Linked DNA regions of Homo sapiens: region 1 is linked to region 2. The links come from fine-mapping of genetic effects on gene expression. A gene starts in region 2. The other region holds a variant in brackets. All regions are shown on one strand. Distances are between the middles of the regions.

Region 1 (13,071 bases), 20 kb before region 2:
CTATTGCTGCCAGCGTCATCTGCCTTACACTAAACTGTCCAGAAATCTTCAAATGTTCTGTTTGTCCACAGAGAGGAAAAATCCAACCTGCTTTGGCCTCAAAGGTTCCTGCACCAGCCAGCCCCCATCTTCCTTCTCAACCTTATTTTCTATTCTCTTCCCTCCCTTCCCCAGGCCCATGCTTTAGCCAAACTGGGTAAACAATTCTTGTAGTTCCTGTAGCCCAGAATATTCTCCTGCCTTCTCTATTCCCATAAATCTAATTCTTACCTATTCCTACAGAATCAGCTCATTTATCCCCACTTCCAGGAAGCTTTTCCTGATTGCTGCACTTGGACCTGGTCTCTCTCCTTCCTTAATGCATCTCTCGTGACTCCTGTCCTGTCCCACTGGCGTAATGGCCATTTGTTTTCATACTTTCTCTCCAAAAAGGTTACCAGGTCCCTGCTTATTCTTTTTGGTCTTCTATTTGGCACGTGGTAGCAGACCAAATTCACAACGAATCCTTAATATTTATTGGGTGAATAAATGAATAGTAAGTATTGGTAACACACTGGTTGCTATATATATTTCTTTAGATTTGTTTTTCTCTCCCCTGTGTCCCAACTGGGGCCCCCTTAGCTTTCAATCTAACCACCCTTTCCAGACAGTCTCTGCTTCTCCCTCCCTGTGGTCCCCTCTCAGCCACACTCTGCTGCAGGCGAGAGAAGCAGGTCCCTGGCCTGACCCTCAATGACCTCTTTCCTCCCCGCTCTCTAAATACAGGCTCAGAGGAGGAACTCGAGGAGCTGTGTGAACAGGCTGTGTGAGATGTTCAGGCCTAGCTCCAACCAAGAGTGTGCTCCAGATGTGTTTGGGCCCTACCTGGCACAGAGTCCTGCTCCTGGGAAAGGAAAGGACCACAGCAAACACCATTCTTTTTGCCGTACTTCCTAGAAGCACTGGAAGAGGACTGGTGATGGTGGAGGGTGAGAGGGTGCCGTTTCCTGCTCCAGCTCCAGACCTTGTCTGCAGAAAACATCTGCAGTGCAGCAAATCCATGTCCAGCCAGGCAACCAGCTGCTGCCTGTGGCGTGTGTGGGCTGGATCCCTTGAAGGCTGAGTTTTTGAGGGCAGAAAGCTAGCTATGGGTAGCCAGGTGTTACAAAGGTGCTGCTCCTTCTCCAACCCCTACTTGGTTTCCCTCACCCCAAGCCTCATGTTCATACCAGCCAGTGGGTTCAGCAGAACGCATGACACCTTATCACCTCCCTCCTTGGGTGAGCTCTGAACACCAGCTTTGGCCCCTCCACAGTAAGGCTGCTACATCAGGGGCAACCCTGGCTCTATCATTTTCCTTTTTTGCCAAAAGGACCAGTAGCATAGGTGAGCCCTGAGCACTAAAAGGAGGGGTCCCTGAAGCTTTCCCACTATAGTGTGGAGTTCTGTCCCTGAGGTGGGTACAGCAGCCTTGGTTCCTCTGGGGGTTGAGAATAAGAATAGTGGGGAGGGAAAAACTCCTCCTTGAAGATTTCCTGTCTCAGAGTCCCAGAGAGGTAGAAAGGAGGAATTTCTGCTGGACTTTATCTGGGCAGAGGAAGGATGGAATGAAGGTAGAAAAGGCAGAATTACAGCTGAGCGGGGACAACAAAGAGTTCTTCTCTGGGAAAAGTTTTGTCTTAGAGCAAGGATGGAAAATGGGGACAACAAAGGAAAAGCAAAGTGTGACCCTTGGGTTTGGACAGCCCAGAGGCCCAGCTCCCCAGTATAAGCCATACAGGCCAGGGACCCACAGGAGAGTGGATTAGAGCACAAGTCTGGCCTCACTGAGTGGACAAGAGCTGATGGGCCTCATCAGGGTGACATTCACCCCAGGGCAGCCTGACCACTCTTGGCCCCTCAGGCATTATCCCATTTGGAATGTGAATGTGGTGGCAAAGTGGGCAGAGGACCCCACCTGGGAACCTTTTTCCCTCAGTTAGTGGGGAGACTAGCACCTAGGTACCCACATGGGTATTTATATCTGAACCAGACAGACGCTTGAATCAGGCACTATGTTAAGAAATATATTTATTTGCTAATATATTTATCCACAAATGTGGTCTGGTCTTGTGGTTTTGTTCTGTCGTGACTGTCACTCAGGGTAACAACGTCATCTCTTTCTACATCAAGAGAAGTAAATTATTTATGTTATCAGAGGCTAGGCTCCGATTCATGAAAGGATAGGGTAGAGTAGAGGGCTTGGCAATAAGAACTGGTTTGTAAGCCCCTAAAAGTGTGGCTTAGTGAGATCAGGGAAGGAGAAAGCATGACTGGATTCTTACTGTGCTTCAGTCATTATTATTATACTGTTCACTTCACACATTATCATACTTCAGTGACTCAGACCTTGGGCAAATACTCTGTGCCTCGCTTTTTCAGTCCATAAAATGGGCCTACTTAATAGTTGTTGCAGGACTTACATGAGATAATAGAGTGTAGAAAATATGTTCCAAAGTGGAAAGTTTTATTCAGTGATAGAAAACATCCAAACCTGTCACAGAGCCCATCTGAACACAGCATGGGACCGCCAACAAGAAGAAAGCCCGCCCGGAAGCAGCTCAATCAGGAGGCTGGGCTGGAATGACAGCGCAGCGGGGCCTGAAACTATTTATATCCCAAAGCTCCTCTCAGATAAACACAAATGACTGCGTTCTGCCTGCACTCGGGCTATTGCGAGGACAGAGAGCTGGTGCTCCATTGGCGTGAAGTCTCCAGGGCCAGAAGGGGCCTTTGTCGCTTCCTCACAAGGCACAAGTTCCCCTTCTGCTTCCCCGAGAAAGGTTTGGTAGGGGTGGTGGTTTAGTGCCTATAGAACAAGGCATTTCGCTTCCTAGACGGTGAAATGAAAGGGAAAAAAAGGACACCTAATCTCCTACAAATGGTCTTTAGTAAAGGAACCGTGTCTAAGCGCTAAGAACTGCGCAAAGTATAAATTATCAGCCGGAACGAGCAAACAGACGGAGTTTTAAAAGATAAATACGCATTTTTTTCCGCCGTAGCTCCCAGGCCAGCATTCCTGTGGGAAGCAAGTGGAAACCCTATAGCGCTCTCGCAGTTAGGAAGGAGGGGTGGGGCTGTCCCTGGATTTCTTCTCGGTCTCTGCAGAGACAATCCAGAGGGAGACAGTGGATTCACTGCCCCCAATGCTTCTAAAACGGGGAGACAAAACAAAAAAAAACAAACTTCGGGTTACCATCGGGGAACAGGACCGACGCCCAGGGCCACCAGCCCAGATCAAACAGCCCGCGTCTCGGCGCTGCGGCTCAGCCCGACACACTCCCGCGCAAGCGCAGCCGCCCCCCCGCCCCGGGGGCCCGCTGACTACCC[C/T]ACACAGCCTCCGCCGCGCCCTCGGCGGGCTCAGGTGGCTGCGACGCGCTCCGGCCCAGGTGGCGGCCGGCCGCCCAGCCTCCCCGCCTGCTGGCGGGAGAAACCATCTCCTCTGGCGGGGGTAGGGGCGGAGCTGGCGTCCGCCCACACCGGAAGAGGAAGTCTAAGCGCCGGAAGTGGTGGGCATTCTGGGTAACGAGCTATTTACTTCCTGCGGGTGCACAGGCTGTGGTCGTCTATCTCCCTGTTGTTCTTCCCATCGGCGAAGATGGCCCTGGAGACGGTGCCGAAGGACCTGCGGCATCTGCGGGCCTGTTTGCTGTGTTCGCTGGTCAAGGTGTCAGTCGGGGACCTGGTTGTAGGGCCCATGGGGGACCAAGGTCGGGGAAAGAGGGCGGAATGGGGCTGTGGGACAGTAAAGAGAAAAGTTAAGTCTCAGAACTCAGAGGTGGCAGGGGGAGTGAGAAGCCGAAGGAGGCCATCGTTTACCTCGTAGGATCGCGGACAGGTCTTGCAGCTGAGGGCAGGGGCGGTCTTACATGCCTTTGAATCCTCAGCTCTTAGACGTTCGGTGAACTTACGTTGGAGCCGAAAGACACTGGGAGTCAGAGGCGGGTGGGGATCCGCTGCTGAGTGAGTAGTCGGAAAGGATGCCTGACCCTGAGTAGACTAGAGAAAGGAATAGATAAAACGGAATTGGGAACGAGAGAGGAAGGAGTGGGAGGGTGGGACTTAGGAATGAAGCTTTGAGAGTAGTAGGTGGGGAACCTTAGGATACACAGTCAACATAGGGAAACAAGAAATTGAGCAGGTCGAAGTATTGAGAAAGCTACTTTTTCTCTTGGTCTTGTTCATGCTTATCTCTCCTTTTCCTTTATTTTTCTTTCACTCCCAGACTATAGACCAGTTTGAATATGATGGTTGTGACAATTGTGATGCATATCTACAAATGAAGGGTAACCGAGAGATGGTATATGACTGCACTAGCTCTTCCTTTGATGGGTAAGCCGCTTCAGTTTCCATCATTCACTTCTGCATTACCCAACCTGCACCCAGAGAAGTAAATGCAGGGCAAGTGTTAATCCTAGTTGGGCCCAGCCATTCGTTTTTGGGGGTTATTTTGTGTGGGTTTTTTTTTTTTTTTTTTTTTTTGAATCAGGGTTTTGCTCTGTGGCTCAGGCTGGAGTGCAGTGGCATGATCATAGCTCACTGCAGCGTGGAATGATCCTCTGACTTCAACCTCCCAGAGTGCTGGGATTATAGGTGTAAGCCACTGTGTCCAGCCTCAACAGTTATTTTGGGACATACTAGTGCTATGCATCTAATACAGTGACCACTATCCACGTGTAGCTACTGAGCACTTGAAATGTGTCTAGTCCAAATTAAGACATGCTTTTAAGTATAAAATATACCCCAGATTTCAAAGACTTAACATGAGAAGAAAGAATGTAATCTTAATAATGTTTGTTAAATGCATGAAAATTTTTTTTGAAAATGAAGGGAAGGGAGGTGTAGTAATGGTAGATCATTGCCCAAAAGCTGTTGCTTTTTTTTTTTTTTTTTTTTTGGACAGACTTTTCGCCCTTGCCACTCATGCTGGAGTGCAATGGTGCAGTCTCGGCTCACTGCAACCTCTGCCTCCTGGGTTCAAGCAATTCTCCTGCCTCAGCCTCTTGAGTAGCTGGGATTACAGGCACCCACCACCACTCCCAGCTAATTTTTATATCTTTAGTAGAGACGGGGTTTCACCATGTTGGCCAGGCTGGTCTCAAACTCCTGACCTCAGGTGATCTGCCCACCTCGGCCTCTCATAGTGCTGGGATTACAAGTATGAGTCACCATGCCCGGCCCATTTTAGCCATTTTACTTATTTATTTATTTATTTATTTATTTGAGATGGAGTCTCGCTCTGTCGCCCAGGCTGGAGTGCAGTGGCGCAATCTCGGCTCACTGCAACCTCCGCCTCCCAGGTTCAAGCAGTTCTCTGCCTCAGCCTCCTGAGTAGCTGGGATTACAGGCACCTGCCACCATACCCAGCTAATTTTTGTATTTTTAGTAGAGACGGGGTTTCACCATGTTGGTCAGACTGGTCTTGAACTGCTGACCTCGTGATCCACCCGCCTCGGCCTCCCAAAGTGCTGGGATTACAGGAGTGAGCCACAGCGCCCGGCTGCAATGGCACGATCTCAGCTCACTGCAACCTCCGCCTCCTACCTCAGCCTCCTGAGTAGCTGGGATTACAGGCGCCCACCACCACGCCCAGCTAATTTTTGTACTTTTTTTAGTAGAGACAGGGTTTTGCCATGCTGGCCAGGCTGGTCTCGAACTCCTGACCTCAGGTGATCCTCCCGTCTCAGCCTCACAAAGTGCTGGGATTACAGGCATGAGCCACTGTGCCCGGTCGCCATTTCTAAATACACAATTCAGTGGCATTAGTGCATACTCACTGTTGTGCAACCGTCACCACCATCCATCTCCAGAACTTTTTTCATCTGTACCCATTAAACACTAGCTCCTCGTTCTCTCCTCCCTCCTGTCCCTGACAACCACCATGCTTTGTCTCTATGAATTTGGCCACCTTAGGCACCCTTAGGTACCTATGGGCTCATTCAGTAGCATTTTTTAGCTTCTTTCACCAACATAATGTCTTCAAGGTTCATTCATATTGTAGTATGCAACAGAATTTCCCTCCTCTTTTGAGCTGAATAATATTCCCTTGTATGTGTATAGCATGTTCTGCTGCCCATTCATTCATCAATGATATCTTGGGTTGTTTCTCCCTTTTGGCTATTTGTGAATAATACTGCTGTGAACATTGGTATACAAATATGTGTTCAAGTCCCTGCTTTTCATTATTTTCAGTACAGATGCACCTCAACTTCCGAGGAGTTACAACCTAATAAGCCCATCATAAGTTGAAAATATAAGCCAAAAGTGCATTTAACACACCCAACCTACTGAATATAATAAGTTAGCCTACTTCAAATGTGCTCAGAACGCTTATGTTACTGTGGCTGACCAGAAGCTGTGGCTCATGGCTGCTGCGCAGCATCATGACAGAATATTGTACTGAATTGCTAGCCTGGAAAAGAACAAAATTTAAAATTTGAAAACGATTTCTATTGAATGCATGTCACTTTTGCAAAATCATAAATTTGAAAAATCATAAGTTGAACTAAGGTAAGTCAGGGATCATCTGTATATCCACAAGTGAAATTGCTAGATCATATGATAGTTCAGTGTTTAATTTTTTGAGGAACTGTCATACTGTTTAGCAACTGCACCATTTTCCATTCCCACCAACAGTGCCCAAAGGTTCTAATTTCTCCCCATCCTCACCAACACTTAATTATTTATTAATAATAGCCATCCTGATGGGTGTGACTTTGGTGTCCCATTTCCCCCAATGAATGGTGATGTTGAGCCTCTTAGGTGCTTATAGCCATTTGTATATCTTTGGAGAAATGCCTATTCAAGGCCTTTGCTCATTTTTGACTTCAGTTTGGTTTTTTTGTTGTTAGGTTGTAGGAATTATTTGTATAATTCTAGTGCATATTAGGTCTTAAAGAGTGGGCAAATTAAAGATCGGAAGAGGGCTAGATGACCTCAACCAGAATTGGAAGAGGTAGTACTTTCCTCTTAAGGCAAGAAGTTTGGGATTTTTGAGGAAGTTGAGGTGAGAGAGAGAGAGAACATTCCAAATAAAGGGAGTGACTAGAGCAAAGGCTTAGGATGGGAAAAACCAGGATGTTTTTGGAGAACAGTGGGAATTCTGTTTAGGTTAAATCATAAGGTTGGGCTGTAGGGACCCTAAGGCTAAAAAGATAGATTGCAAAGGACAGAGAAGAATATACTTGTGGTCAGGAGGATGGCCTGCATACATGCCTATCTCCCATCAGGCTGCAGGGCTGGGGGCTAGTGTTCTGCTTGTCACCCCTGGAGGTAGGGTCGGTTCCACTTAACAGCGCATGGCTGAGAATGTAGGATTTGGATGGGAAGGGAATCTTCTCAAATAAGAATCCAAGATTGTTACTGAGAGAAGAGGGGAGGCATATTGAGGCAGTCAACAAATGTCAGTGCTTACACCCACACAATAGGCAGTCAGTAAGCATTTGATTGAATGCGTTGAATGACAAAAATGCTTACCCATCTTGCTCAAGCAGCATCTTCTAGCCCTTGAATAGCCTTACCATTCCTCTGGAATCACAGCTACCTGGGAAGGACTATTAGGATAATGAGGAGAGCTAATGCTTATTTAGCACCTACTCTGTGCTAGTCTTTGTGCTAGGTGTTTTTCATGTATTATCTCAACCTTTGAGTCTCAGCTTACTGATGAGGTTCTGAGAAGGGAACCCCACATGTATAGGTCATTAGAGGGGTCCCCATATGTATAGGTCATTAAGAGGAAAAGTTTAGCCAAGTTGAACTCCTTTCTAGTAGGAGGATCCGTTGTTTTCACTCACCCTCCTCTTTGCACTAGGCCCTAGACCCCTTGTAGTTGTGTTAGTTGTAACTATTGGACCCCTTGTCCTAAAGCCGTCTCATTTTCTAGGGAATGTTAGGCTAAGGATGTTTGTGAGCTGAGTGAGATAATCTTTTGGGGATGGAAACTGACCTGTGGCTGGCCGGCCAAGGACATAAGAATGAAGAACTTTTGTCAGTCCTAGCTTTGAGTCAGCCTCATCCCAACATCAGAAGGCAGTTTTGCCAGCTTTCCAGTGGAGACTCGGTACTTGGCTTTTTCCTAGATTCCTCTCTCAGAATTGAGCTCAGGCCCAGGGAGGCTCAGGCTGACTCTCCATTTCTTTTCCCTCCCTAGAATCATTGCGATGATGAGTCCAGAGGACAGCTGGGTCTCCAAGTGGCAGCGAGTCAGTAAGTGTTGGCCTGTCTCCTTTTGGCTTAGTTGTAGTGTTGTTACTGTTCCTCAGGTCCATTAGGGAGTCTCAAATCAGCAAGATGAGTGACCTCAGGGTGGGAAAGATCGGGTTGTAGGAAACACAGGGAAGCAGTGTCCTGTGCCTTGTCATTTAACACTTGTAGCCAAAAGAGGGAATAGCTCTTCTCTTGGAGTTGCATCACTTCTTTAGCTTAAGCTTCCATTTGATCTTGAGTCTTAACTAACTTCACTGTAATCTTGTATCTTTTTTCTTCTCTCTCAGGTAACTTTAAGCCAGGTGTATATGCGGTGTCAGTCACTGGTCGCCTGCCCCAAGGTAATAATAATCATAACAGCCAATGTTCATTTACTGTAAAGCTCTGTGGAAGTTTTTTTATCTGAATTAATGCCAATTCTCACATTCTATGAGGTTCAGCATTTTACAGATGGGGGGAACCAGGCACAGAGAGGTTAAATCACTTGCTGGAGGTCACCAGGTAGTAAATGAGGAGCCAGGATTGGAATCCAGGCATTCTGGCTCCAGAATTTTTGCTGTTTCTGTTTTTTATTTTTTTTAGAGACAAGGTCTCACTATGTTGCCCAGGCTGGACTCTAACTCCTGGGCTCATGTGCTCCTCCCACCTCTGCCTCCTGAGTAGCTGGGACTACAGGTGCTTGGCTTAGAACCTTTGCTTTTGATGACTACATGTATCCCTCTTTTTCTTCTCATTCTTACCGAATACCTGCCTGGGTCTTCACTAGTAATGAGTCAACTAAGCAGGACCTTTTTTTTTTTTTTTTTTTTTGAGACAGAGTCTCTGTCACCCAGGCTGAAGTATAGTGGCATTATCAGAGCTCACTGCAGCCTTGAACTCATGGATTCAAGGGATCCTCCCGCCTCAGCCTCCCAAATAGCTGGCACTACAGGTGCAAGCCACTACACCTGGCTAATTTTTAAAATTTTTTTGTAGAGATGGGGCCTTGCTCTGTAGCCCAGGCTAGTCTTGAACTCCTGACCTCAAGTGATCCACCTTGACCTCCCAAAGTGCTGAGATTGCAGGCATGAGCCACCGTGCCTGGCCAAGCAGACGATTGATAAGTAGTCTAGGAACTCCAGTTTGCTTATAGTACCCCCCTCAAGGTGGCAGCTGAGTGGCCTATCTTACCCTTCTGAATCTTACCTCACAGAACTGTTTCTTTTCCTGCTTCAGGAATCGTGCGGGAGCTGAAAAGTCGAGGAGTGGCCTACAAATCCAGAGACACAGCTATAAAGACCTAGCAAGATGCAAGGCTGCCAGCATCTTTGCTCTCCACCTCCTGCCTCTGCTTATTTCTTGTTCTGGAACTAAATGAACAGAACTTCAAATACTTCCTACCCTCCAATTCAGACTCAGCTGACTGTTGAGAGAGCAGCACATCATTTTATCATTTTATCTTCTTTGGACTACAGGTGGGGTGGGAGGGATTTGGGTTGGTGGATTAACAGATGGAATTGAGGAGAGAGTAGGATGCTGATTTTCCTACCCGTGGCCCAGGTCTGTGCCTTCCCCATGCCAAGGACTCTAGGTCAAATGTCAATAAATATGAACCTCGAGAAAGTTCTGAAGGCCATGACACCTGCCTTGCCTCCCTCTTCCATTCTCTTAGGCACAGTAATAGCTTATTTGCCCTATAAGAACCTTCCCAGAGCAGCAGAGGCCCTTCTACTCCCTCTTGACTGTCTCAGCCTCTGGGATTGCAGCCTTTGTAGTGTGCTTCCTTGCTTCCTATCGGAGGGTGCTGATCCAGAGGCTCAGTAACCCCATCAACTTGGTGGCCCTGGTGTCTCACACTTGTATCCTTCTGCCCTCGAGACCTGGCACAGCAGTATCCCTTGAAGAAATCCTGAGGCTTTGTAGAGTGCTCCTTGACCATGTTTAATAATTCTTCCCTCCCCTGCTTGTCTATTTTCTTCTCTTCACGGCTCTTCCTATACCTTAGGCCAGTCTCAAGCACTCACTGGAGACCCTTGGGCCTTGGGCGACCATTGAGTCCTAGTCTCCCTTGTTTGTGCCCCTGTAGGAGGTAGGTCCTTTTCTCCTCCGGCCTAGTAGGGGACCTTGGGTAACATCCCATTTTTCGGCCAAGGTGAGTTGTTTTAGGATAAAAAAATTTACCACAAATTCTCATTTAAATTTCCACAGAAATCCTGTTCGTATCCCCATTTTGATTTCCCTAAGTTCCTTGTTCTCCCTCTAAAAAGAGAATGATTGCACCCTGCCTGTTTACCTCAGGATTGTTGTGATTGTAGAAACGAAGCTATGTGAAAATTATATAAGTATTATAAAGGTGAAATACTTTTGCTCTCCTTTTTGGGCCATTTTTCAATACATAGAATATGTGCACAATCAGCCAAAATAGTAGGGGAAATGCTGAGAACCACAACTGCAGGGTGAGCTGTGCTGTGCTAGGGCAGAGCTGCCTGTGCTAGGGCTTTGTGTCTCAGCCACCTGGTGTTGCTCTTGAGTTGATTTTGCTTGTTACCTGTGGCCTGGAGAGTGTGGGAAGGAGGAGAGATGCGACCTGACTCTGATTAGTTTGTCTACTCCCCTTCCTTGTCCTCACATAGGCCTATGGGAGGGAAACTGGGACTGGCCGGGCTGCTCATGTCCACTATGGTCTTCAAACCAAAACCATTTTCTCTGGTGCCTTCAAGCTCTGAGGGAATGGTCAGATAACCCCAACTCCAAACTGAGTTTCTCAAGGATTTCCCCAGCCCAGCAAACAGAAAGCTCCGTGGGTGGTGATTTCTGTTCAATTTCAACCTGAAAGCAACCCTGCCAGGCTAGAGCTTACGTCCTGGATGGAAGAAGTGCGTTTCAGCAAGTGCCCAGGCTGTGCAGCCAACACCCAACTTTCACTAGCTTCTCAAAAAGTCCCTTGGAAAGCCCCAGCTGCTGTCCTGGGTGTCTGACCCGGACGTGGCTGCTTGGTGAGAATGGAAACAGTTGTGGGGAGGGGAGGCAAGAGGAGCTTGCACAAATAACCACATTCAGGCTGCCTCAGCCCTACACTGAACTGGGCCCTAACTGACAGTCTCACAGGAAGCAAAAGACATAGCATAGGCATTGATGCTTGTGGGGGAAGGGTGGCCTGTTTTCCTTCCTGGACTCTACAGACTGTGCCAAGTGGGCTCTCCCCGGGAGCTGCTGCTGAATTAGCTTTCTTGCTTTCTCTGGTACTTGAACATGCAGGTGGTGCCACTCAGCAACCCAGACAGGCAGAAAGGTGCTGGAGTCCCATCCTCTACTGGGAACCCAAAGAAACTAAGACAAGGACTTGGTTCACAGCTCCCTGGGAGTGGGCGGTCCTGGTACTGCTGCCCTGCTTTCCATGGCTATGAGGGCAGCCATGAGAGCTATGTCCTGCCCCATTGGCCCATTGTGTCTGTCAGAGTTTCAGTCCCGTCCTGGCTGCCGAAGTTCTGAGTGCATAGCATCTTAAGATCTCTCCTTGTCTTGCTCAGTAGTTTGGCTTCTCTCCTGAAGAGCAAGCCTCCTCCCTAGCTCAACAAGGACAGATGCAAGTCAGACAGAGACTAGGAATAGTAGCCAGGCTGCCTTCCCCTTGCCTGCCCTTGCCTCATTCCCTGCTTCCTCCCTGCCACATACTGTGGAATTAGGGTCTCCCAGAACACTGAGGAGCTCAGTGGCAGTGCATTGATAATGCAGCCTCCAGCTCAAGAAAGGACTGGTAGCTGATAGAGCAAGGGTCAGGATGGTCTGGTCTTGGAGGGGAGCAGTTTCACCAGGGTTGGGAACTGAGGCTTTGCTCTTGGTGTGGCTTCTGCCTTGTTACTCCTAGTCTGTCTGCAGCCTGCTACTTGATCCTCAGGTCCCCTCCCTGACATCTGGTCTCTATGAAAGAGGCAGGTAGGTCATGTTTAAGAACAGACTAATAATAACTTTGTCTGGAAGTCTGGTTCATGTTTAGTATCAGTAAAGCCTTTCATGTAAATATTTTTACAGTTGACAAAGGTGCTGGGTGCTGTGGCTCATGCCTCTAATCCCAGCACCTTGGGGAGGTCAAAGCGGGCAGATCACTTTGAACCCAGGAGTGTAAGACCAACCTGGGCAACATGGCAAAAGCCCATCTCTACAAAAAATTAGCTAGGCATGGTGGTGTACACCTGTAGTCCCAGCTACTTGGGAGGCTGAGGTGGGAGGATCCCTTGAGTCTGGGAGTTTGAGGCTGCAGTGAGCCGTGATGGCGCCACTGCACTCCAGCCTGGGGGACAGAGTGAGACCGTGTCTCAGAAAACAACAAAACAAACCCAAATACAGTTGACAAAGGGCTTTCATATCCAGTATCTCATTTGATTCTCACAGAAACCCTGGAACTAGTTAACATCCTTATTTGGTGATGAGGAGACTGAGACTCAAAGAGTTAAAGTGTCTTGACTGGGCACGGTGGCTTATGCCTGTAATCCCAGCACTTTGGGAGGCCAAGGTGGGTGGATCATGAGATCAGGAGTTCAAGACCAGCCTGGCCAAGATGGTGAAACCCCGTCTCTACTAAAAATATAAAAAGTTAGCCAGGTGTGGTGGCGGGCGCCTGTAATCCCAGCTACATGGGAGGCTGAGGCAGGAGAAGTGCTTGAACTCGGGAGGCGGAGGTTGCAGTGAGCCAAGATCGTGCCACTGCACTCCAGCTAGGGTGACAGAGCAAGACTCTGTCTCGGGGTGGGGAAGAAAAGAGTTAAAAGTGTTTTAGCCATAATCAAGTAGTGGAGCCTCAGCTCAAGAAATATAATGTCCACACTAAGTTTAGGGCTACTAACTGTTTGTGACATAGTTGTCCACAAA
Region 2 (15,964 bases):
CATCTCTCCACTTGTGTCCCCAGAAGATCCCAGAGGAGAAAGCTTCTGGTTTCACGGCCACTCCCACAGCAGTGGTCAGGGTAGCCTTCCTCACACCCACACCCCCTTTCCACCCAGCCCGTCCTGCCTTTTCCCAGATGTTGTGGAAAGAACCCAACTTGGCCCTAACTTGTTTTGTGACCTCAGGCTGCCTTCTGCCTCTCTCTGGGCTTGCAGCTCTGTTTCCTGACTCGGGACCAGTTGCTGCCTAACCTTGCTGCTTAAAAGTCCTTGGGTCTTATGATCCCAGGAGATCTGAGCCAGAACCCTGCCCCAGTGCGAAGTGACCTCCTAGTGTGGGCCACTGTGCATTGGAGCTGCCCCTTGCCAGACAGAGTAGAGCAGGAGAGTATGAAATTAAACCTAGGGGAGTCTGGTACGAGCAGGCAGGGGCTGAGGGGCAGCCAGTTTGCCCGCCCTCCTTGCCTGGAGGCCCTTTAGCACTCCTTGTGCTCCCAAGGCTCTGAGATGAGACAGATCTTCTGAGGTGCTGAGATGATCTCTGTAGGGGACATGGGCTGTCTTAGGTTCTTAAGGCACTTGCCTCTCTTGGCACCTGCTTCCCTTGGCTGCCCCTCCAGGGAGATGGGGAAGGGTCTCAACATTTGGGACTATTGACTCCAATTTGCTTTAGCCCCATTTTGCAATGCTAGGGGCTCAGTTTCCCTCCTTTGTGGCCAGGCCTGTCCCCAACTGTAGCTTACTGGAGGGCGGGTCTGCTCTGCCTTCTGGACTTCCTGTTTGTGAGTGGTTAAGTCTGTGGCTTCTCTCTTGTTGGCTCTTTGTAAGGCAGGTTATCTGGGCTGCCATCTCCCACTGGCTGCTTGCCTGCCTGTGAGTGAGGGCCCCAGGCCCATGCAGATGGCAGGGAAGGGTTGGTTTTCTTTTCTGCCTTCATGTGCGGACAATGAGCTTGTGTCATTTCTTCCACCCTCTGGGCCTGCTCTCCTTACAGGCATTAGGCCTTCAAAAGACAATTTTCTCCCTGTTTCTCCTCCTTGCCCAATCTCTCCTTCTAAACCCTCTTCCACCTGTACTCACATTCTCCAGGAAGCCTTCTCTGATGGGACTCCTGTGACTCTAAGGTTGCTACTACAGCATCCAACATCCCAGCCCCTTGGGCCCTGGCAACTGCCACCTGGGATGGCCTTGTGCCTGTTGCCGTTACTATGTTAAATGTAGATGTGTGTGTCTACTTCACCCTCAGATTCAGTGCTCACTAGAAGTAGGAACCAAGTGTCCCCATCAGACCTGAAGCTCTGCCCCTGCTTTGGGTACAAGACACTCACTTGCACTGACACACACACTCGTACACACTGCCTATCAGGCTGGGAGTGCCCAAGGACAGGTCCTGTGTCCTTTTCTCTGCCGGCTCACCTTTGCCTACCCACAGCCTCAGCTTGGCACACAGAGATGGTTGTCCCCCAGGTCGGTAAGGTGGGGGTGGCAGTGAGGGACCATGAGCCTGGAGCCCTCCAGGATTCCAAGCCCAGATCCCTCTATCCTGATGAAGGGCTGTTCCCACCTTGTTCCTGCCGCCCCCGCCCCCTACTTCCTCTGAGCAAGAATCTGAATGTCAGAACCAGGGAGGGCCGTGGGGGACTTTTGACAGCAAGTCCAAGTGAGCCAAGGTTGCCCAGTGACAGCCTGCTTGAACCTGGATCGGCCGCCAAGGAGGCGGAGTTTGAAGTATCAACTTGAACTCCTCTCTCCACAAAGACATCAAGGGTTTGGTTTTTCTCATCCTGGGGAACTCAGGCAACAGGTGGCTTTGGAGGCAGGAGTGGGAGCCAGGCCACTCTCACAGAGGTACTTATGTTCTGAATCCACCCCCAGCTCCTTCCAGTCACCCTGTCAAGCACTGGCCCCAGATTCCCAGGTGACCCTCCCTGTGTCTCTTGGGGAGGACGCAGGTGTGTCCAGGAGTGTAGATAGGCCTCCTCTAGGTGTGTGTACAGGACTGCGGGGTGTGTCGGCGACAGCGTGTCTGTGTCTGAATGTTTTGGGCTCTCTGGGCCGCTGTGTCTGCATGTGTGTTTCCATGCAGGCACTGGCTGCTCTTCCCTCAGGCACCTGCTGGTCAGTCACACAGGCCACGCATCTGGGTGGTGGCAGCCTACGTCAGGCTTCGAGTCCAGCAGCCTTGTTCCAGTCACAGGTGGACGGCCCATTCCATGTATCCTAGCCATTCTCACAAAGTTTCTTATTGTCTCTGTATTCTTATTTTAGACTCTGCCCCTTCCCCTGTCCTTGATTTTGTCTCTGGCCCTGTACCATTTCTTCTGGTTTGAGGCCCAGCAGAGTCGGGAGTCATCGCTGGGCTGGGGAAAGTCCAGGTCCTCATTCCATCCTTCTTTAGCCCCAGCCTCGGGATGGGAACCAGCAGAGGGCCTAGACTATCCAGAAACCCCCTGACCCCAGAAGCTCCGTTGACAGAGAAGCTGGGCCCTAAGCTCTCTTCTCAAAAAAAGAAAATAGATAAATAAAAATAAAAACTATTGGTGGTCTTTAGGCATTGAGGTTGTACAGAGAAAATCAGCCTCTGTTGTCACAAGACAACAGGCAGCAGGGACACCTCACCCTGCTCAGGACAGGAGAAGGGCTAGATTGGAGACTGTTGGAGCCATGTGTGTCCCTTGGAACCTCAGCTCTGACTCGCCACAGGTCACATGCTGAGGGGTCTATGGCATAGCTGGGCCCAGAAGCCGGGCTCCTGGGTCCCATTCTGTGACTCTCTTTTGTGGGGACAGGACGCCTCTGAAGTGAGGGCTATGGAGGCATCATAAGCAGGAGTAGGAGGTAAGATGCTCTCAGGGGAGGAGCCCTGAAGAATGGGGGTCCAGGAACCCAGGTTACTGCACAACTTTGATATTCTTATCCTCTTATCGCCTGGGGCAGCCACTTCCCCTCCACCCAGGTCAGAGGCAGCGGTGGTCTCTTAAAGGAGTATCGCCCCATTTCTGGCCAGCTGGCCCTGCAAGGCAACCCTCCTCACCACTTTCTCTTTAGACTCAAGGGGGTGAAAGGCCCCATTCCCCCTTTCTCTGTCCCATTTTAGGGACCTGGGAATGGGGCAACTTTCCAGGTTGAAGGACCCCCTTCCTGGAGGGAAGGATGTGGGGCCATCTCCCTCCCCACTGCCCCCATGCCAGTCCTCTTCTAGGCCCTGAATCTGACAGCTCCCTAAGGTCTGTGTGGGCCTAAACGGAGGACCCAGAGAAGAGGTCCATGGCCTTCTGGGAAGGAGTCACTGGGTGGTTTTCTCTCTACCGCTCCTACCTCCCCAAACCCATTCCTCTTGCTTCCAGAGCCAAGCCCATGGAGAGGCTTGGAGAACGCTGGGGGAAGATGGTATGGGCTGGGCTCAGCCGACGCTGTCCCCTGCCCACCCCCACACCCTACTCCCCTCCCCCAGCCAGGGGCCCTGGGCTGGGCAGCTTCCTGCCTTCCCCATGGGGAAATCGGGGGTGGCATGCAGGTGGGTGGGCCCCATGCCCACATCCGGTGGCCGCCAGAACCTTCCCTCGAGCCTCTTTCCCGCCACTCCTCCAAGCCCCCTTCTCTCCGCATAGCACCTGTGCCCCACCTTAGGACCTGATCCTCACCCAGCTCTGCCCTGCCCTCTTGTCCCCACAGGTCCCAAAGAGAGCGTGAACACCTAGCCTAGTGCCATCAGTCCACCGGGCCTGAGAGTGTCCCCCGCACTGTGCCCTGCAGGCTGAGGCTGCAGGAGGGGTGGCTTTGTGGGGTGCTGAGGACAACAGTCTCCATGGACGCCCTTCATGCATCAGCACCTCCATGGCCCTCGGGAGCACACGCAGAGGAGCCAGGGCCTGGCCTGAGTGTTGGGAAGGGAAGGGAGTTTTCTGGGCTGAGGTCAGCAGCGGTGGGGCTCAGAGAGAAGGTCCTTTTCTTGTGCTGGAATTCTGGACTCCCCGTTTTGGGCACTCACCGAGGGCCCTGTCGAGGAGCCCTGGTCTTCTGGGGTCACCCTCAATGCCCTGAGTCAGTCCCAGGCTCTTGAGCCATCCCTTGGAGCTGGTGCCACGGGGGGAAGGGCAGCTGGGGCCGGAAGCCACCTGCCCAGGGCATGAGAGAGGGTCCCCAGCCCTCCCGCGGGCCCACCCCCTTCTGTTTCCTGTCAGTCTGTCCTCCCCAGGGAGGGAGGGAGGGAGGGCGCTCATCCCCTGCGGGCGGGGGCGGGGCGCGCTCTGAGACCGTTGGGCGCCCTGAGATCTGGCCCACGTGGCCTCGGGGTTATAAGCCCTGCCCTCCCTGAAGGGAACCCCACTTCGGAGCCTGGAGCACAGGGCGAGCTCTCCTCCGCCCTGCAGCCTCAGGTAAGGATCCGGACCTTCACTGCTGCCCCAACTGGGGCTCCTCAGCTCGGGGCCTCTAGGGGCTTGGGCTGCTGGTCTGGGTGGAGGCGCGTTGGGGGTGTCGAGGAGCTTGGGTGCAAGCCCCATGCGGGAAGCTCAGGGCAAAGCGCCTTGAAACCCTCTCTAGTGAAGGAAGGTAAAATGGCTCCGGGACCCCAGGCGGGGAAAGAGGTGTCCAAGGAGGAGGGCTGGAGAGTAAGGCGGGGATGGCAGAGGGTACGCAGAGGCTGAGAAGTGGGACCAGTGTCTCAAGGGGCGCCAGCCTCTTCCTCCGCCCAACATGGCCACCATTTTTGTTGGGATAGCCTTGGGCTCCTGCCAGGGGAACAGCAGGGCAGTGAGGGAGTCAGGACTTTGGGCTGGTGGGGAGGCCGAGAATCAAGGCTCTGGGGAGTCAGGACTTTGGGGCTGGTGGAGTGGCTGGGGACTGAGGCCCTGGGGGGTCAGGACCTTGGGCTGCTATGGAGGCTGGGACTGAGGCTCTGGGGGAGTCAGGACCTTGAGCTGGTGGGGAGGCTGGGAATTGAGGCCCTGGTGTGTTCAAGACCTTGGGCTGGTGGGGAGGCCAGGGCCTGAGGCCCTGGGGGGTCAGGACCCTGGGCTGTTGGGGAGGCTGGGGACTTAGGCCCTGGGGGGTCAGGATCTTGGGCTGGTGGGGAGGCTGAAGGGTGGGGACTGAGGCTCTGGGCAGTCAGGACCTCACGGTTGGGGTGGACTGGAGACCAAGACCTTGGCAGGGGAGCTGTGGCTGCCTCATTTGGACGCTGGAGGGTGGCTAGCGTGGCTGGAAGCGGCCAGCCAGGGGTTCACAGAACTGAAGGTGAGGCCTCCAGAGGCCCTAGTCTCTACCTGAGTGTCTCTGAAACTGGGGGGATGGGGTGGAGCCTTTAGGGGGAAGGGAAGAGGGAACTGAAGAGGAAGTGGGGGAGGGAGGTAGAGGAGGCAAGTCTGGCGCCATGCTGAGTCACCGCCCACAAGGCCCAGGGCGGGCCCTCGGGGGGCCCTGGCAGGGTTGGGGGGATCTTAGGAAGCCACAAGGAGGGCTGGGGGGCTCTTGGAGCAGGAGTCAGGAGGCCTGGGCAGCCTGAAGAGTACACGCCGACGGACAGACAGACAGTGCAGTCACCCATAAAGTAGAAAGCACTACTAACAGCACTGGAGGGTGTAGTGTTTCCTACTTTATGGATGAGTGTACTGTGGGCTTCGGAGATCACGCCACTGCTGCCGCCCGCTGCCCGCCACCATCTTCCTCGGCGCTCGGGGACCTCGTGTGACAGGTGAGCACCTTACGGCCCCTCCCTACCCTGCCCAGATGCCTGAAAGGCCTCCATGGCTTTCCTGCCCTTCCTGGTTCCGGACAGCTGGGGAAAGGCCACAGCAGCTCCTCTGCTGCCCTGCAGTCTTTGGGGGCGGGGAGGGCTGGACATGTGGAACCCTGATGCAGCCGCAGCGTCAAGGACGAGGAAGGGGTGGGAAGGGATGGTACGTGGAGGGGAATGGGTGGTGGGACCAGGGACCCAATGCTAATAAAGACTGGACTGTGCTTCTCTTTTGTCTGAGACTCTGTTGCTGGGGTGGGGAGCTGAATGCGGGCGGCAGGCACATGGACAGTATGGGCGCACAGAAGGGCTGGGAGGGAGAACCTCTGTCGCTCCTCCAGAAGATACGGGTTTGGCCCTGCCTATGAGATCAGAAGAGGGCTCTGGGCCTGGCCAGGCCACAGCCGGAGGAGAGAAGGGCCTGGGCCATCTGCAGAAAGGGGCAGGGATGTAAGGCATCCTCTCACCTTCTACCCTAGCTCTGGCCCTATCCTGCCCCCCTACATACCCAAACTGAAAGCTGCCTACATCCAGTTTTAATCTAAGAAAGTCTAGGGGGTCCTAGGTCATATAAAAATTGGGCAAAATCCACTGTGGCACATACACAGCATCTTAGACAAGGGCACAGACACTCATATACAAAGCACACACTGAGATGCAAATGCATTTACACACAGAGGCCCCATTCAGTGTGCCAGTAACACACACACAGACACATGTGACATGACTGGCATGACACACACAGGGATTACACACACCCAGGGCACATACATATTCAGTAGTACACACATGCAATGATAGAAACATAGGGCGTGTCTTACACATAGAAGAGCACACACATACAGTGACATTTGCATAATAAACACGGTGGCTCCATACACATACATAGATAGAGACATGTTCATATATCATGATAAATATAGAATACATAGATACATGGTGATATATATATATAAATCAAACCATGTCATTATGCATATTTACATGACGATATGAGCATGTCATATATTGTGTAATCAATTACTACATTGTGCCATATAGTAGCATCCATATCTATATATATCATGATGTGTTGTAATTTATAAACTCATGCAATGATAGCCTCCCATGCACATAACAGCACACACATAGACACAGTGGCAAACAAACATAGATGCAATGACACAGAAACATACATACAGATACACCCAATGTGTTTTTGTTACGTTTTATTATGTGACTCATAGACACATAATAGCACACACATATATACACACAATGGCCCCTTCACATATACAGAAATAGATAATGTCTATTCTATAGATGCATACTATACACACGCATGCGCATAATGGCATGCATATATACTCTGACCTAAACAGCAACACATCATGCAGTGGCGTGCGTGTTGACCTACACACTGCTTTAGGGAAGTGAAGATGTCCACTCCTCCCCATGCACCCCCTACCTCCAGTTCCATTGGCTCTTGCCTGGGTGGAGCCCACAGTCAGGGGCTCTAGGGTTCAGTATCACCGCTGCTATTCTGTGGGGGTGCCACACGAGGGCCCCCGACCTTGGCTGAAACTGGCTTGCCTAATGAGTCCCGGGTTCAGAGTGGAGAGGGGCTGCCTCTCGGGGCTTCTCCCAACACCCCTGGCTCTGGGGACTCTGTCTAGACCCCTGCCACTGCATATAGACTGACTCCTGGCTGAGGGGATTCTCACGTCCTTGTCCCCCAAATTATTTAGCAACAAGATCTAAGGCTAGACAGAAGATGAACTTCCAGGCAATTCGGGACAAAGCCAACCCAACAGGCCATGTGGGCTTCCCTGGTGGCCTGGGACAGCCAGGTTGCCCCCCAAGTGCAATCTGCCAGGAGGAAGCAGAAGGAATTCTCCGTCTATTTCTACCTGTCTCTTTGCTTGTCTTCCCGGTTTCTTTCTCTTGGTTTCTGTCTCTCTCTTTGTTTCATCTCAAGTCCCATCTTTTCTAGTTCTGCCCTTCTCTGTGGCTGGATCTCTGTCATACCCTCCCCCGTTCTGTCTCTATCAGTCTCACCCGATGTAGGGAGGACCATCTGCACCCCACTCGCCTCTGTACTCCGGAAGGTGTGAGAATGTGTGAAGATGAGGGTGGGAGGCCACATGTGGGAGCCCTGGGCTGACATGCCGTGAGAAACCTGCTCTTCCTTCTGTCCCCGACCCTGTCAGCCGGTTCAGCCCACCAGTCCAGCGCCATCACCATGGAAACCAGCAGCCGACTTCCTATTGGTGGGTGGGAGGGGAGGAGGAGGAGGAGGAGGGGAGGGCTGGCTCTTCCCGGCTCACCCCCCCACCCAATTCTGAGGCTCAGCCCTCCTCGGAGCCCACCATCTCGAGGCTCCTGGACTGTAAGGGACCCCTGCAGTCCCCAGAGCAGAGGCCAGCAGGGGCTGAGACTATGAGGCAAGCAGCCCATCGACCCAGGCCTCCTTAGGACCAGCCCAGCCACCCAGCAAGCGAAAGAGCAGCAGCAGAGAGCAGAGCCGGAGATAAAGGACCACAGCGGACCACTGGGGATCACCCCCAGCAGCTCCTGAAGCCTCTGGCCGGGCTGAGGGGTTGCGACAGACGGCCAGACCCACAGACACTGACAGACACACAACGACACCGATGCACACAGCTGCACGACACTGACACACTCAGATACAACCAGGGACAGCATCACATACTGCCACAGCCCTGCAATACAGACACCCACACACACACACACAAACAACTGGCAACTCTGAAATGGGCAGACAGTGACACACAGCACCACCCCCCTCAACACACAGAAGTGGGGGCACCCATCTTCCCAACACATGAGACAGCATTGACCTGCACGGACAGACCTGGAGACACACACACGCACCCTCACCCAGGCGCAGCTGTCGGTGGCCTCTGCACATCCTCCCTACCCCCACAGGGACACCCTCGCTCCTCCACATACTCGCGCACACACACAGCTACCAGCAAACATAGCTCACATACCCCTGGCTCCAGCTCCAGCAGCCCTGGCGCCTTCTGCAGCCTCCTTTGTGGGTGGGGAAGAGCTCAGCCAACCTTGGATGGAGCGTCGGTGAAGCAAGAGCTCAGAGGGGAGAGGGGCTGGCCTGGCATGACCCTCGCCAGTCCCCCCACCTGGCTGGGTGATGTCCCCCGGCCCGGGTTCTGGGGCCCCTTGGCAGTACCATGGAGCAACTGACAACCCTCCCACGGCCTGGGGACCCTGGAGCCATGGAGCCATGGGCACTGCCCACCTGGCATAGCTGGACTCCAGGTCGAGGGGGTGAACCTAGCAGTGCAGCCCCAAGCATCGCTGATACTCCTCCGGCAGCTCTGCAGCTTCAAGAACTGAGGTCTGAGGAGAGTTCCAAGCCCAAAGGAGACGGGAGCTCCAGGCCCGTGGGGGGAACTGACCCTGAAGGAGCAGAGGCTTGTCTGCCCAGCCTGGGCCAGCAAGCATCCAGCTCTGGACCCGCCTGCCAGAGGCCAGAGGATGAGGAAGTGGAGGCTTTCCTGAAGGTAAGGGATCTGTGGAGGGCTGGGGTCTGCAAGGTGGGGGTCTCTCACCATGTCCTCCAGCCTGGCCAGGAGGTGAGGCGAGGTATGCATCCCCAATGCCCACCTGTCCTCTCTTGGCCTGTCTGTGGGTCCATCTCTGTGGCTATCTGTCCTCTCTTCATCGAGCAGAAATCTGAGGGGCTCCATTTCTTTCGTCATTTGTCTGTCCTTCTGACCCTCTTTGCCTGTCTGTCTAGATCTGGCCCTGCTGCTGCCCCGTCCCTCTCTGTGCCTCCTCCTGACAGTGTGTCTGTCTGTGTCTCTTCTTCCATGAGTCTGTCTGTCCTTAGGGGCTGGGGGATACAGGGGGAGTGTGGAGGTGCACAGAGAATCAGTGCAGAGGAAGTAGATTGAGGGGAGGGGGCTTGGTGCTGGGCTGAGGCAGGGTTGGGGTGGGTGTGAGCAGGCTCCTGTAGAAGAGGGAAGGAACAGGACTTTGGGGGAGGGCAGGGGAGTCTGGAGGGATGGGAGTGGGAGCTCGAGCTCGCATGTCCCTGGAGGAGAAGATGGGTAGGAATGGGAAGGATCAGGGAGGAGCAGGAGGGTGCCAGGTTTGGGGGTGTCTATGTGGACAGGGAGGACTGGACAGTTCCTTCTCCTAGGCCTCCTCTGCTCCTCTCTGAAGGCCTGGGACATAGGGGAAACCGTTTCATCTCCATGTCTCCTTGGACCATGGATGGTGGATGCTTCCACAGGGAAGGCTCTGGCTGGGTGACGTGGGTTTCTGAGGTGCTGTCCTCGGTCCTTTCCCATGCCAGGCCAAGCTGAATATGAGCTTTGGGGACAGGCCCAATCTGGAGCTGCTGAGGGCCCTGGGGGAGCTGCGGCAGCGCTGTGCCATCCTTAAGGAGGAAAACCAGATGCTGGTGAGGCTTGGAGACTGGGGTGCTGCGTTCTGGCTGGAGCCAGGCCCTCTGCCTCAGTGCCCTCCTCACCCCATGAACATCTTTCCAAGTGGGGGCTCAATGGAGGTGACAAAATCCTGAGACCCAGAGAGGGTGAACCCCTGCCTAGAGTTGCCAAGGACCCCACTGTGAGCCTAGGGCTCTAGCCCAAGACTTGGGCTGTTAGGACTGGGTCTGTGGGGTGCTCCCTACATGCCCCAATTCTGCCTGACCCCTTGTCAGAGGAAGAGCAGCTTCCCTGAGACAGAAGAGAAGGTGCGGAGGCTGAAGAGGAAGAACGCCGAGCTGGCGGTCATTGCCAAGCGCCTGGAGGAGAGGGCCCGAAAGCTGCAGGAAACGAACCTGAGGGTGGTGAGGAAAGGAGGCTGCTGGGCGGAGGCTGGGTGACCAAGGAAGAGGGGAGCCAGGGCTGGGCCTGAGGGCTGTCTGAAGCTTGGGAGTCACGGTCTCAGCTCAGCACCTAGGAAAGCAAGAATCTAGGGGCTAAGGTGCAGGAAGGGCAGAGGCTGGCCAGGCAAGGAGGCCAAAGGTTTCTGGAGCTGCAGGGGGCAGAGAAGAGCTGGATGGGGAGGTTCCTGAGCAGGCAGGGAGCAGGATTCTGGATTACCACGTGCTGGTGCTGGCGGCAGCCTTCTGCTGAGCTCATCTCAGGGTATAGAGCTGGAGTGGGGGCAGGGATGAGACCCATCACAGTGGCAGCCCCAAATTAGCAGCATCCTTTGATCCTAAACTCAGATGTAGAGTTAATCCTTTCCAACTGCTGGGATGGGGTAGAGTGAGGCTGCTGGTTTTCTGAGACCCCAGTCAAGGTGGAAGCAGGTGGCTACCCCCCTAGGTTTTCATGCTAACTCCTCCTTTGGGAGGAGATGAGGAGTGGGAGAAGTGCCCCAGCCCTCAGGTGACCATTGGCCTTACCCCTCCTCTGGCTAGGTGAGTGCCCCCTTGCCCCGGCCGGGGACCAGCTTGGAGTTGTGTCGGAAGGCCCTAGCCCGCCAGCGAGCCCGGGACCTCAGTGAGACAGCCAGTGCACTGCTGGCCAAGGACAAGCAGATTGCTGCCTTGCAGCGGGAGTGCAGGGAGCTGCAGGCCAGGCTCACTCTGGTGGGCAAGGTGCGAGGAGGCCCTGGTCACCTCTTCCAGCTCAGCCCTGCACAGGGCCATCTGCCTGTTGTGGGATGCAGACAAGATGTTAATGAGACGCAAATGAAAGGGAGGGTGGAGGTTGCTGGGAGTAGGTTCCCCTGGCAACGGCCCAGGTGGGAGAGGGGAGAAGGGGGTGGAGCCATGAGTCCCAGACCTGGGCATTTCTGTGCTCCAGGCTTGAGGCTGTTTGCCGGTGGGTCTGGCTGTATGCATCCACACATCCCCTGTGTGAAGGGATGTTCACAAGGTATTTAGCACAGTGCTGGGCACATTGAGAGCACCCAAGAAATAAGTTACTGAGAATGACCGCATAGGGGCTCGCGGGAGCATGTGGCCACATACGCATGCACATGTAACCAGGCATGTACCCATGGGAGGGTGTGCACAGTCTCGCGCATCGGAGCCCCTCCAGCAAGGCGAAGGGCTCTGCAGGGGATGGCATGGGGCGGGCAAGGATTAGGCCTGAGTCCCCTCCCTGTCCCTGTCCCCCAACCTCAGGAGGGTCCCCAGTGGCTCCACGTGCGGGACTTCGATCGGCTGCTGCGCGAGTCCCAGCGGGAGGTGCTGCGGCTGCAGAGGCAGATCGCGCTGCGCAACCAGCGGGAGACGCTCCCGCTCCCGCCGTCCTGGCCCCCGGGCCCTGCTCTCCAGGCCAGAGCAGGGGCGCCTGCTCCCGGGGCCCCGGGAGAGGTGAGCGCCGGCGCAAGGGCAGGTGTGTGGGTGCGTGCAGATGGGTGGGGGGAACGACCACCGGGATCTCCCCTGCACCGTGCTCAGAACCCCAAGGACTCAGTGGTGGTGTGCGCACTCCCAGGGGCTGGGGAGCTTTCCCGTCCTGGGCAGGGTCCACCTCCAAGCCTCCCGTGCTCGTACCTGCGCCGTGCCCTCCCCTGGGGGCTCCAGGGTTCCGCCCTCCATAGGCCTGCGCCCAGCGGGGCCTGGCCGGCCGCCCCTGCCGCGCTGCCAGTGGTACGGCCCGGCCGCAAATCCCTGGTTGTCCTGGCAGCCGCCCGGGGCCCAGCCCGCGCCGCCTCCTCCCGCCGCCGCCGTAGAGCGGGGACGCCCCCGTCAGCGCCCGCCTGGCTGGCCAGGCCTGGCCCCAGCTACCCGGGGGCGGCGGTGCGTCCGCCCCGGCTCCAGGTACAGGCAACCCTCACTGAGCGGGGGGCTTAGGCAGCCCCTGTCTCGAGGGCCAGGGACCCGCTTAGGACCCCCAGAACTTAAGGGTCTGGCTTCTCGCCATCATCCTAGGTAGGCAGCAAGTAGGTCCTCCTCCTTCTGGGAAGAGGGCTGGGAGGAGAGACCAGGCAGTGATCTGATAGTGACCAAGACCTCCGGGTGGGGGGAGGCTTCTTGCTCAGATTTTGTCTCCCTGGCTGGCCCTGGAAGGGAGATGCACCCTCCCATCAAGACCTGTCCTCCCCCAAAGTTTGCACGGATAATCGGAAGGTGTGGTAGGGTGGGCTTGGGGGAAGCCAGGAGAAGGGTCTGGCTGGACTTGCGCTGCTCTAGGCCAAGCCCAGATTTGGATGATACAGAACCCCTATCTTGGGGAACACCACATCCCCGGGGGCCCAGGCAGCCTCCTAGTTCTCTGCCAGTCGCTGAAGGACACCCAGGACAGTTATTGAGTGCAGAGCAGGGCTGCTGCTGGAAGCTAAAAAGGGAAAGCTTTGGCCTGGATAAAGGACCCATCTCCCAGGGCACACGTGGGTCCCAGGATCTCAAAGCACTTATGGCTCCAGGACACAGGGGTGCAGCCTTTGTACTTACACATCAGCTGGAGACAATGGGAGGTGGGTGGGCAGACAGTACCCCTCTTTGCTCTTGCTAGGCAGGGATCTCTTGCTGGCTGAATGATGGGGTGGGAACCTGCTCTGGGCAGGCTGGGCTGGGGCAGGCTGCCCTGGGGCCCTGTTCTCAGGTGCCAGCCCCTTGCCCCTGGGCATTTCCAGGCCACGCCCCAGGAGGATGCGGACAACCTACCCGTGATTCTAGGGGAGCCAGAGAAAGAGCAGAGGGTGCAGCAGCTGGTAAGTCCTAGGTCAAGGGCTGGAGGCAGCCTGCTGTGGGCAGATGTACCTTCCCTCATGAGGAGCACTTGGTTCTGACCCCTCAGGAATCGGAGCTCAGCAAGAAGCGGAAGAAATGCGAGAGCCTGGAGCAGGAAGCCCGGAAAAAGCAGAGGCGATGTGAGGAGCTGGTGAGCTCTTGAGGGCAACCCAGAGGCCAGCTCCTCCCTTCACCCCGGCCAGCCAGGTGGTGGGCTCCCTCTCAGCTCTGCTCCCACCCCTGCTGCCCTCAAGAACACATTTTCCCTCCTGCTCCTTTCCTTTCCTGGCTGGTGCAGGTTCCAGCAGGGGAGGAAGGCCTTGCCTGGGAGGAGGGCAGGGTCCTCTGTGTGGGGAGAGGGGGAATGTGGGTGCTGGGCTCCCTCCTGAGAGCTCCTCTGCCCGCTCAGGAACTGCAGCTGAGACAAGCGCAGAATGAGAATGCCCGCCTGGTGGAGGAGAACTCCCGGCTCAGTGGGAGAGCCACAGAGAAGGAGCAGGTACCACTTCCGCCCAGGTGCTGTGGAGACCTGTGCTCCCACCACTGCCCCGGTCCCCAGCCAAGGGGCTTTCTCCTCCACCCCTGAGCAGGGGTAGGGTACTGTTCCCCCTGTGAGGGTGCTGGTGGGTCAAGGCTCACCCACCCAACTCCCTGTCACTGCCCCCTCGCCAGGTGGAGTGGGAGAATGCGGAGCTGAGGGGCCAGCTCCTGGGGGTGACACAGGAGAGGGACTCAGCCCTTCGCAAGAGCCAGGGCCTGCAGAGCAAGCTGGAGAGCCTGGAGCAAGTGCTGAAGGTGAGGAGATGGTGCAGGTGGGAGAGGGTGCTGGGCCCTGGCATGGGGAGCAAGTGGGACAGCAGAATATTCTTAGTGAGGGGCACTAGCTCTGAGGCCTGGGCCTGGAGCTGCTCCAGGCTCAGTTTCCTTTGTAATAGAGGAATCTGGAGCAAATGGTGTTTGAGGCTTCCTCATCTTAGATCTTCTCTAGAAATGGCCAAGTAGGGGCTCTGGCCTTGACTCAGATCTTGTGTTTCAGCACATGCGGGAGGTGGCCCAGCGGCGGCAGCAGCTGGAGGTGGAGCATGAACAGGCTCGGCTCAGCCTACGGGAGAAGCAGGAGGAGGTCCGGAGACTGCAGCAGGTGGGGCGGCAGTGAGGGAAGCTGGCAGGCTGCTGGACACCAGCTTTGCCACTCACTCATTCCACAAGCATTTACTGTGTGCCCGGCACTGTGCTAGGCGTCGGGGAGACTGTGGGGAACAAAGACCAGGTCCCTGAGCAGTCAGCAAATTAGCATCCAGGAGTGAGCTGATTTCAGACACTGATGAGCACAGTGGTGGAGAAGAACAGGGTGATGTGACAAAGTGACTGGGATGGGGTGAGGAGCCACTTTAGAGGTCATCAGGGAAGGCCTCCCTGAGGAGGTGACAATTGACCTTGCCAGCCAGGAGGTGTAGACATGCACATGCTCTGTGGCAGGGAAGAGCTGAAGAAGCCTGAGACCAATGTGGCTAGAATACAGCAAGGGATGGGCAGCGTGGTGGGAGTAGACAAGAACCCGATCCTGTCGGGCCTTAACGGCCATGGGAAGAGTTTGGGTATTTTGCTCTGTGAGTAGATAGAAGCTCCTGAAAGATCCTAAGTGGGGGAGTGACATGATCTGAGTCATAATTTTACAGGATCACATGGCTGGTATTATGGAGGGTGGACTGTGGGAGCAGGCGTGGAGCAGGGCCTGGGCGGTGGCCTGGGAGGGAGATGGTGGCTGTCTGGACAGAGATGCATGCAGTGGAACGGGAGACAAGTGCCTGGGTTTGAGTTATGTTTTAGAGATAGAACTGACAAGGTTCTGGCCGGGCATGGTGGCTCATGCCTGTCATCCCAGCACTTTGGGAGGCCAAGGTGGGTGGATCAGTTGAGGTCAGGAGTTCGAGGCCAGCCTGGCCAATATGGTGAATCCCCGTCTCTACCAAAAATACAAAAATTAACCTGACATGGTGGCGGGCCCCTGTAGTCCCAGCTACTCAGGAGGCTGAGGCAGGAGAATTGTTTGAACCCGGGAGGCAGAGCTTGCAGTGAGCTGAGATCGTACCATTGCACTCCAGCCTGGGCGACAGAGCGAGACTCCATCTCAAAAAAAAAAAAAAAGAATTGACAAGGATCCCCGTGGGATTCCAGTTGAATCCCTTCTCTGACAGCCATTTGCTGTATAAACCTTGGTGGAGGGTGGGGCTCTTCATACTCCGTGAGGTGAAGGATGAAGGGGCAGCAGATCTGAGAGGTAGGTCATCCCGAGTGCTGAGTTCCATTTGGGCCATGTCTGAGCTGCGCGTTAAACATTCAAGGGGAGCTGTCCACAGGCACTTGGATACATGAGCCTGGGGTTATGGGTAAGTTGGTCTTGGAGATATTTGGAGCCACCAGTGTGTTTAGTTGTATGAGTAGATGGGAGCCCTAGGAAGAGAGTAGACAATATAAACTGGGCCCAGCACTGGGTCCAGGGTAACCCTAACATTCAAAATGGGGGACAGGGAGCAGGCAAAAGAGGCTGAGAAGGAGCATCC

Direction of the effects. Positions count from the first base shown, and alleles are read on the strand shown. Sizes are in standard deviations (SD) of each study's normalised expression.
With allele T in place of C in region 1, the expression in unexposed skin of the gene that starts at base 8,054 in region 2 is higher (small effect, 0.39 SD a copy in GTEx).

Evidence for each region.
Region 1: its variant is fine-mapped to the expression of TSPOAP1 in unexposed skin (GTEx, PIP above 0.99). The same link has a PIP of 0.9 or more in atrial appendage and skeletal muscle.

Annotation. Positions count from the first base shown.
Region 1 is chr17:58,342,681-58,355,751 of GRCh38, reverse strand. It overlaps SUPT4H1 (SPT4 homolog, DSIF elongation factor subunit), which reads left to right and starts at 3,551. Exons shown (of 5, transcript NM_003168.3): 1 at 3,551-3,685; 2 at 4,244-4,350; 3 at 8,168-8,223; 4 at 8,511-8,564; 5 at 9,439-10,574. The coding sequence starts at 3,617. The coding sequence ends at 9,506. It overlaps RNF43 (ring finger protein 43), which reads left to right. Exons shown (of 10, transcript NM_017763.6): 10 at 766-2,076. The coding sequence ends at 809. It overlaps TSPOAP1-AS1 (TSPOAP1, SUPT4H1 and RNF43 antisense RNA 1), which reads right to left. Exons shown (of 5, transcript NR_038410.1): 4 at 3,838-4,008; 5 at 2,025-3,753. RefSeq lists enhancers at 2,235-2,770, 11,005-11,534 and silencers at 3,158-3,587, 3,868-3,977. The variant C/T (reference allele first, on the strand shown) is at 3,349.
Region 2 is chr17:58,320,885-58,336,848 of GRCh38, reverse strand. TSPOAP1 (TSPO associated protein 1) reads left to right here and starts at 8,054. Exons shown (of 32, transcript NM_004758.4): 1 at 8,054-9,261; 2 at 10,059-10,166; 3 at 10,428-10,556; 4 at 11,136-11,315; 5 at 11,847-12,038; 6 at 13,304-13,381; 7 at 13,468-13,551; 8 at 13,810-13,899; 9 at 14,073-14,195; 10 at 14,437-14,541. The coding sequence starts at 8,929. TSPOAP1-AS1 (TSPOAP1, SUPT4H1 and RNF43 antisense RNA 1) reads right to left here and starts at 11,399. Exons shown (of 5, transcript NR_038410.1): 1 at 11,121-11,399; 2 at 8,728-8,799. MIR142HG (MIR142 host genes) reads left to right here and starts at 4,329. Exons shown (of 1, transcript NR_186557.1): 1 at 4,329-5,961. It overlaps MIR142 (microRNA 142), which reads left to right and starts at 5,531; the gene lies at 5,531-5,617. It also overlaps MIR4736. RefSeq lists enhancers at 4,432-4,501, 5,302-5,441, 7,232-7,311, 7,412-7,581, 8,112-8,181 and 11 more and silencers at 4,012-4,321, 8,892-9,001, 9,612-9,671, 11,932-12,021, 12,062-12,131 and 1 more.